2 separate regions of the Homo sapiens genome follow, and region 1 is linked to region 2. The links come from fine-mapping of genetic effects on gene expression. A gene starts in region 2. The other region holds a variant in brackets. All regions are shown on one strand. Distances are between the middles of the regions. Region 1 overlaps PTP4A2 (protein tyrosine phosphatase 4A2). Region 2 holds the start of PTP4A2 (protein tyrosine phosphatase 4A2).

Region 1 (4,375 bases), 33 kb after region 2:
TAAGCCTCCCATTTTGTTAGCGTCAGCTAGGCCAATAGGAACAGACCGGGACCTTGTCTCACACTGATGATACCTCACATGTTGACCGGCTATGTGAACTGCCTATTTCCTATGCTGGAGTTTTGATTTTTAACTAAACGCAAATCTGTAGATTCTCTCCTCTCCCATCCCAGAAAACAAAACAAAATAATGCTTTTCGAAATTGTTTCTAGGACTTTAAAACATAATGGTATATCCAAAATTCTTTATTTCAGAATGCAACAATAGATTCCATTAATATAGACTCAAGATCAAAACAGCATACCTGCTAAGCTAAGATAGATGGTGTTGATTCCACTGGGTTTTGATCAATACAATAACAAACCTTTTTCCTTTGACATACTCTGAATTTTGTTGTTTGGGGGGAGGGGGTGTGTGTGTGTGTGTGTGTGTGTGTGTGTGTATGTGTGTGTGTGTGTGTGCACGCGCAGTGTCCATCAGTATCAGTGCCTGCCTGAGTTAGGAAAATTACATTCCTGGTTCTGTATTGAGGAGAAGGATGTATAAAGCAACATGAAACATTAGCCCTCCTTTTATTTTAAAGACTAATGTTAATTGTTCTTAAAACTGGATTTTTTTTCCTTAAAGCAATTTTTTTCTTTTCGATTTAATGAAGTATTGCTAGCTGAAGCCAGTTTGACATAGAGAGATGTCAGATTGATTTGAAAGGTGTGCAGCCTGATTTAAAACCAAACCCTGAACCCTTTTAAAGAACAATAAAACATATTTTACACGCTCTTTGTGCATTTTTTTCCTCCATCCTCAAGAGTTTATGTCTGTGCTTATAAAGCGGAGTTTAAGCTGGGTGCAGTGGCTCATGCCTATAATCCCAGCACTTCGGAAGGCCAAGGCAGGCGGATCACTTGAGCCCCAGGAGTTCAAGACCAGCCTGGGTAATGTGTTGAGTCCATCTCTACAAAAAAAAAATGTTTAATAATTAGCTGGGCATGGTGGTGTGTGCTTGCAGTCTCAGCTACTTGGGAGGCTGAGGTGAGAGGAACACTTGAGCCCAAGAGGTTGAGGCTGTAGTGAGCTGTGATCATGCCACTATACTCCAGCCTTGGTGACAGACACCCTGTCCCAAAACAACAACAACAAAACCAAAATTTCACTTACATCTGTTCCCCTTTCTTTGCCTGCTATTTTCAAGGACTGTTTTGGGTCCTGCTAGTTTACTGCAAGGAGGTAAAATAGAGGCTTGGAAATTCAAAGATTTTATGTCACTGAGGTGTTCAGGAAGAGCCAACTTAACCATAGCTGGGATACATCTAGTACATTTTCTGGTTCAGTTCTTGTATACAACCCTGTAGGAATTCAGCATCTTGTCAAAGGCTTGGTTTATACCATAGATTATTATTTTTTAGAGACAGAGTCGTGTAGTGCTTCCCAGGCTGGAGTGCAGTGGCTATTCACAGAGTCAATAATCGCATATACTATGGCCATTCTGAGTAGTCTCTCACTGCACCCAGCTTATTTATACCATAGGTTTTGGTGAAGCATTGCAACTTTGTACTTGAATTCGTATTAAAGAACAATGAGGAAGTAACAGCTCTGTATTAATATATCAGGATTTGGGAGTGTGGAATTTCCCTTTCACTATGGGTAAGCATCCATCCACCCAGGTAACAACATGCTCAGATACTAGGAAAAGATACGACACTCATTTCACTTTGGAGTACCTCAGTCTGGAGGGGGTGTCAGATATGTAGACATAAAACAGTTACAGTGGGTGGTTATAGTACTATTTATAGATCATTGATCCACAGCCTGGGCAACATGGCCAAACCCCAACTTGACAAAAAATACAAAAAGTAACTGGGTGTCGTGGCGCACTACCATCTGGACTACAGTCCCAGCTACTCGGGAGGCTGAAGTGAGAGGATTGCTTGAACATGGGAGGCTGAGGTTGCAGTGACCTGATACTGTGCCACTGCACTTCATCCTGGGTGACAGCGAGACGAGTCTCAGAATTCATTGATCCTGCCACTTCTCTTCACCTCTTTTCACTTCTTCATGTCCTTCATTACCTAGCTTAGGTTCTGTGATGCACTGTGACAATCAGCTTTTCAGCCTTGCCCCATCTCTTGTTGCATTGTACTTCCCTGGCTAAAATCCATTTTTGGTTAAGTTCAGTACTCCACTTTCTGTGCACTTAAGTACTTACACAACTGAACATGCTGATTCAGTCTCTCTAAGGTCATGACCTCCCCGGGCCAGGTGGTAC[G/A]CGCCTATTAAGTCTCAGTTACTCAGGAGGCTGAGGCAAGAGAATCACTTGAGCCCAGGAGTTTTGAGGCTACATTGTGAAATGATTGTGCCCGTGAACAGCCACTGCACTCCATCCTGGGCAACATAGTGAGACCCTGTCTTGAAAACTAAAGCTATGACCTCACATGAGCCTCAAAACCTCTCAATCCTAGTACATTTCTCTATCCCATTTACACTTTCTCTTAAATTTTTAACACCTTTGCCATCCTCTCAGCTTATGACTTTTTAAAACTTAGAAATAAAATTTTCACAAGCTCCTCCCATCACATCTACTCACCCACCTGCATCTGTGCTACTGTCTTTTAGTTACTATAGGCAGACTGTCCTTGCCCAATTTTTTTTTTTTTTTTTTTGAGACTGAGTCTTGCTCTGTCACCCAGGCTGGAGTACAGTGGCGCAATCTCAGCTCACTGCAACTTCCGCCTCCCGGGAGCAAGCGATTCTCCTGCCTCAGCATCCTGAGTAGCAGGGATTACAGGCACATGCCACCAAGCCCAGCTAAATTTTGTATTTTTAGTAGAGACGGGGTTTCACCATATTGGTCAGGCTGGTCTCAAACTCCTGACCTCATGATCTGCCTACCTTGGCCTCCCAAAGTGCTGGGATTACAGGCATGAGCCACTGCCCGGCCTGTCCTTGCCCTATTTAAGGCAAGCTCTTCCACTTGTGTGCTAAATTCCATCCCTTAACCTGTTCAAAGGGCCCAGAGGTGTAGCCATTTTCCTTCTCTGTCCTGCTCATTAACTTTTCCCCCTACTAGATCATTCCCATGAGCTTATAAACATGCTAGTATTCCATATTTTAAAAAAATCCTTGTTTGACCCCGCATCTGCCCCTTCAGCTGTCATCCCGCTTCTTTGCTCTTCTCTAGTACAAGTTGAGAATTATCTATCTATGCTCTCTACTTCTCTCCTTTGAGCTTGCACCAATGAGGATTTTGACTCCACAGAACAGCCCGTGTTAAAGATCGCCAGAGGCTGGGTGCAGTGGCTCATGCCTGCACTTTGGGAGGCCAAGGCAGACAGATCACATGAGGCCAGGAGTTCAAGACCAGCCTCCCAACATGGTGAAACCCCGTCTCTACTGAAAATACAAAATTAGCTGGATGTGGTGGCACACGCCTGTAATCCCAGCTACTCTGGGTGGCTGAGGCACGAGAATCGCTTGAACCTGGGAGGCAGAGGTTGCAGTGAGCCAAAATTATGCTTCTGTGCTCCTACCTGGTCAACAGAGTAAGACTGTCTAAAAAAAAAAAAAAAAAAAAAAAAAAAAGGATCACCCCGATCGATGGTCAATTCTCATAACTTTTTTTTGAGGGTCTTGTTTTGTCACCCAGGCTGGAGTGTAGTGGCATGATCATAGCTCACCGTAACCTTGAACTCGGGCTCAAACGATCCTACCTCAGCCTCCTGAGTAGCTAGGACTACACGTGCATGTCACTGTGCCCAGCTAATTAAAATTTTTTGGTTGGGTGTGGTGGCTCACATCTGTAATCCCAGCACTTCGGGAGGCCGAGGCGGGCGGATCACCTGAGGCCAGGGGTTCGAGACCAGCCTGGCCAACATGGCGAAACCCCGTCTCTTCTAAAAATACAAAATTAGCCAGGCAGGGTGATGCATGCCTGTAGTCCCAGCTACTCGGGAGGCTGAGGCAGGAGAATCGTGCCATTGCACTCCAGCCTGGGTGACGAGCGAAACTCTGTCTCAAAAAAAAAAATTTTTTTTTTTTTTTTTTTTTGGAGAGACATAGTCTTCATAGCCTTTATTTATTTATTTATTTAGGACATGGAGTCTTGCTCTGTGGCCCAGGCTGGAGTGCAGTGGCGCGATCTCGGCTCACTGCAATCTCTACCTCCTGGGTTTAAGCAATTCTCCTGCCTCAGCCTCCCAAGTAGCTGGGACTACAGGCACGTGCCACCACGCCCAGCTAATTTTTGTATTTTTAGTAGAGATGGAGTTTCACCATGTTGGCCAGGCTGGTCTTGAACTCCTGACCTCAAGTGATCCCTCCACTTCGGCCTCCCAAAGTGCTGGGATTACAGGCGTGAGCTACCGTGCCTGGCCAAAACATA
Region 2 (4,393 bases):
GGAGCTTGCAGTGAGCTGAGATCCCGCCACTGCACTCCAGCCTGGGTGACAGAGTGAGACTCTGTCTCAAAAAAAAAAAAAGGGGGGGGGCGGTAAAGGTAACTACTATTGGAGCCACTATTCTTATCCTTATGTTGTTAATGTTGTTATTACATTATTTTATTTCAGGGCCAGAAGGAGAGCTAGGTGGAGGGAAGGGTCATTCACTTGGTCAGACAATCTACTAGATGAAAACAAACAAGCAAACAATCTGCTAGACTGCCCCAAATAGATCCATTTAAGCAGGGGAGAATCTGAAAACAGGCAATTACAATTCCATGTTAAGTACTATGGTAGAGTATTGCACAAGGTGTTTTGCAACTTTATCGGAAGAATCAATAACTCACAGACGCAGCAAAAGTTTTGCAGAGGTGGTAGCTCTTTCTTTCAAATCAGTCTATGTTTCCAGGAAGTAGAAAATACTGCTTGCTGGAGGCAGACAGAATGCAAGTGAGCCCAGTCTGTGCTCCTCACCTAAGGGCCTTGCTACTGATCTGCAGCCCCTCCTGCTCCTCAAGGCCTCTCTCAACTCCCACACAGCCCTGCTAGCCAGCCTTGCCCTAGAATACCCCCTCCTGGGCCACCTGGTGGTGAACATCCTGGACTCTGTGCTGTGGCTTGATGCGGCTGAGTCATAAGACCTTTCTTTTTACTGCTAAGCGCTAATGGAAGCCTTCTGGTCAGAAGCAATGCCCCAAGTCTACCTTGTGGGGAAGGTCTAATGACGACAGATCACTGCTTCTCCCCGCAGGGCTGGATGAGCATGGATGTGGTGGCGAGGTGGGGGAGAAGCACCCACGGGAGCATCTTCATTTCTTCCTATATAGGCGCCAGTTCTGGGCAGGCAAGACTTCCCAGGGGTGGACAGAAAGAACAGACCCTCCCCAACCCGCAATTCCCAGGGGGAGACATCTCCCTCCCAAGCCAGCCTCCAATGCCGCACTTTGCCATCTGGTCGTGGCCCAAACCAGCCTCCTAGCTCGCTAGTGACCACATTTTCCAAACCAAAACTCAGGACGCATGATCTGGCAAAGAATTTCTGGCTAGCTTCCAAATGCAAGAGGCAAAAACCTTTCCACCTGAGAATCTCTACGATAATCTGCGTCGTTAAAGGTGACATTAAGTCGGAAAGCTTGAAATTCAGGGTCTCTTCTTTCTCACTTTCTCAACTCAAGCGTTTTCTTTTTCTTTCTTTTTTTTTTTTGAGACGGAGTCTCACTCTGTCGCCCAGGTTGGAGTGCAGTGGCACGATCTCGGCTCACTGCAAACTCCGCCTCCCGGGTTCAAGTGAGTCTCCTGCCTCAACCTCCCGAGTAGCTGGGATTACGGCCCTCCTTCCGGGCGGGCGCCACCATGCCCAGCTAATTTTTGTATTTTTAGCAGACACAGGGTTTCACTATGTTGGCCAGGCTGGTCTCGAACTCCTGACCTTGTGATCTGCCCTCCTCGGCCTCCCAAAGTACTGGGATTACAGGTATGAGCCACCGCGCCTGGCCCTTCTCAAGCGTTTTCATACGTTGTTATCGATACGTGAAAGAGCCCATGAGGTAGCTGATTATTATTTCCATTTAATAGTTGATAATACTTGGAATCACTTGCCCAAGATCCTACATCCTGAAAGTCTGAATTTTGGCTTGTCAGGGACAGTTCTTAGGGTGGGTGTGTGTCTTGTGGGCAGAGCTGGGGGTGGCGTATTAATATCTTCGACGAAGATGCACACGCCATTCATTTGGGGCCTCAGGAAGGGCAGCCGAGAACTGAGCTGGCCAGGTTCCCACTTCTGAGTTGGAAATCCCCAAGCCCAGGACGTGGCGGCCACCCCGTCCCATCAGGATCTGACCCGAGGCCTTAGGGCCAAGTAGCGAGAAAGAACCCTTCGACCTTGCAGGTCACACCTCGGCTGCAGGCCCTCGACCCAGCCCAGGTGCGGATGGGCGGGGCGCAGCGTGGGCGAGCGACTCCCCAGGCCACGTTCTGCCTTCCCTCCCCGATCACATGGACTCGCCTTCCGTAGCCGGGAGTGCGGAGCGGAACGAACCACGAGGAGGAGGAGCGGGGGAGGCGCCCAGGGCAGTGGGTCAGCGCCCCGCGGGGCAGGTGGGCGGGCCCAACTGCCCGCGAGCCGGCCAGCCAGCCAGTCAGCGAACGCGGAGGGCGGGCCGGTGGCCCTGCGCGCCGCGCCCCGCAGCGCCCCCTGAGGGGCGGCGGCGGGAGCTGGTTCCGGCTGCGCGCGCAGCGGTGGTGGTGGCGGCGCGATCGGCCGGGCTGTAACCGTCGTCTGTCCGGGAGCGGCTGGAGCGGCAGCGGCGGCCGGGCACGGCGCGAGGTGACGCCACAGGGCAGCGGCGGCAGCGGAGGCAGCGGCGGCAGCAGGAGACGCAGCGGCGGCCGCAGCAGCAGCAGCAAGACGGACTCGTGGAGACGCGCCGCCGCCGCCGCCGCCGGGCCGGGCCGGGTGTCGCGCGCCGAGGCTGGGGGGGAGTCGTCGCCGCCGCCGCCACCGCTACCGCCGCCGCCGCCGCCGCCGAGGTGACTGAGGAGAGAGGCGCCTCCTCGCTCCCGCCACCGCCGGACTTCAATGCCCAGTCCCCAGCTCGCCAGCGTGAGTGCGCCCCTCCCGGGCGGCCCCCGCGCCGGCGCCGGGGGCCTCGGGGAAGGGGAGGGCGGGAGGCGCCGCAGCCATTAGTGCAGGCCGGAGACACGTCCCCGGAAGGAGGGCCGGGCCGGGCCGGGGCGGGGGAGCGAGGGTGGGTGAGCGAGGGGCGGGCTCGTGTGTGTGGAAGGGAGAGAGCTGTGCGAGCGTGGGGGAGAGTGAGTTGGTGAAGGGAGGGCGTGTGAGTGGGGGACAGGGCTGAGTGTCCGTGCGAGGAGGTGGGGGGAGTGGGAGCGCGTCGGGAGGCAGTGTCGATGTTGGGGGAATGTGGGTGAGGGCAGGGGAGGGTATGGGTGTGTGGGGAGCGTGTGGGCATGAGGGGTGGTGGTAGAATGAGTGAGTAAATGGGGGAGGAGAGAGTTGAGAGTGTGGTAAAGAGCGGGTGAGTGTGGGGGGAGAACATGGTGTGTGTCGGTGAGAAGGTGCGTGGCAGAGGCAGGAGTGTGGTAGGGTGTGCCGGCGTGTGTCCAGTGTGTGAGCAGGCATCCTAGAGGCCCTTCCCCTTGGTCTTTGTGTGTGGCGATAGTGAACCCTGGTGTGTTGGGTTGGGGAGTTCTTTCCGGGAGCATCTTGTCCGTGGGTCTTCAGGTTCAAGTATGAGGAAAGGGGGTATAAGTCTCCTCCAGCGGCACTATGATCTTCTGGCTCTGGGATTTTAATTTTTTTCCCCCAGAAAGGATGTGATGTGTTTTTTTGTTGTTGTTCTATACATTTTTTTCTCCCACGTTTCATGACTTCAAAGTAAATTTTCAAATTTGTCAATGATGCCATCCTATCCTAGTCTGGGGCCCCTGAGAGCTAACGAAAAGAAGTTTGTCTGTTGCCCAAAATCCTACACTCTGGCCTGTAGAGTGTTCAGGAGCATAAACTTTTGTAAAGTACTGCTAGTTTTTCAGGTGAAGAGTATTTTATTGTTAGGTAAATTGAACTGTAGTCTGGTTTATTATTTCCTGGAATTTGTCAAGAAATTAGCAGTGACTAGCAATTCTAGTGTCACTGTAGGCATTCAGCAAATGTTTGTCTGTCCGGAGTCGCCAAACTACATTACACTGCTGAGTTGGAATATGGTACTTGCTGTCATGCTCTGTAAGAGAGAGTAGTTTCAGAGGGAAGTGAGTGAAGTTATGCCTTGCTGAGTGTGCAAAAGGAGATTAAGGATACAGAATGACACATTATCAGGGCTTCAGAATCACTTGCCAGCACACCATTGTATTGGTGAAGATGGTGAGAAGTTGTTTGCTGGTATTCTGATCTTGGCATTTTTAAGTTTCATAATGAATGGACTAATTATTATCATGGACTTTTCCCATTCTTGTGTTGTAAAAGTAGGGATTCTTGAAGAGTAGTACCTTGATAGGGATTTTACACATTGATATAATCTTAAAAATGATGTTATCTTAAAAATAATGTCTCCTAGAAGTTGGTAGTCTTTCACTTGATCTTAGCCAAAAGGCCGAGAAGCGATAGAAGTTGGTAGTCTTTCAGTATAAGCAAAGAGTAGTATGGTCCTTTTGTTTTTTTTTTGTTTGTTTTTGAGATGGAGTCTCGCTCTGTTTGTTGCCCAGGCTTCCCGGGTTCAAATGATCTTCCCGCCTCAGCCTCCCAAGTAGCTGAGAATACAAGTGTGTGCCACCACACCCGGCTAATTTTCATATTTTTAGTAGAGATGGGGTTTCACCTTGTTGGCCAGGCTGGTCTCGA

What was found. PIP is the estimated chance that this variant, and not a neighbour inherited with it, causes the effect. A credible set is the group of variants that fine-mapping cannot tell apart.
Region 1: its variant is the best candidate, but not a certain one, in a credible set for the expression of PTP4A2 in whole blood (INTERVAL, PIP 0.51).

What each region holds. Positions count from the first base shown.
Region 1 is chr1:31,902,823-31,907,197 of GRCh38, reverse strand. PTP4A2 (protein tyrosine phosphatase 4A2) reads left to right here. Exons shown (of 6, transcript NM_080391.4): 6 at 1-777. Among named protein-coding and RNA genes, the nearest start is that of PTP4A2, 33 kb to the left of the region's middle. The variant G/A (reference allele first, on the strand shown) is at 2,264.
Region 2 is chr1:31,936,235-31,940,627 of GRCh38, reverse strand. It overlaps PTP4A2 (protein tyrosine phosphatase 4A2), which reads left to right and starts at 2,260. Exons shown (of 6, transcript NM_080391.4): 1 at 2,260-2,641. RefSeq lists enhancers at 1,674-1,943, 3,054-3,103 and silencers at 2,004-2,383, 2,586-2,757, 2,534-2,873.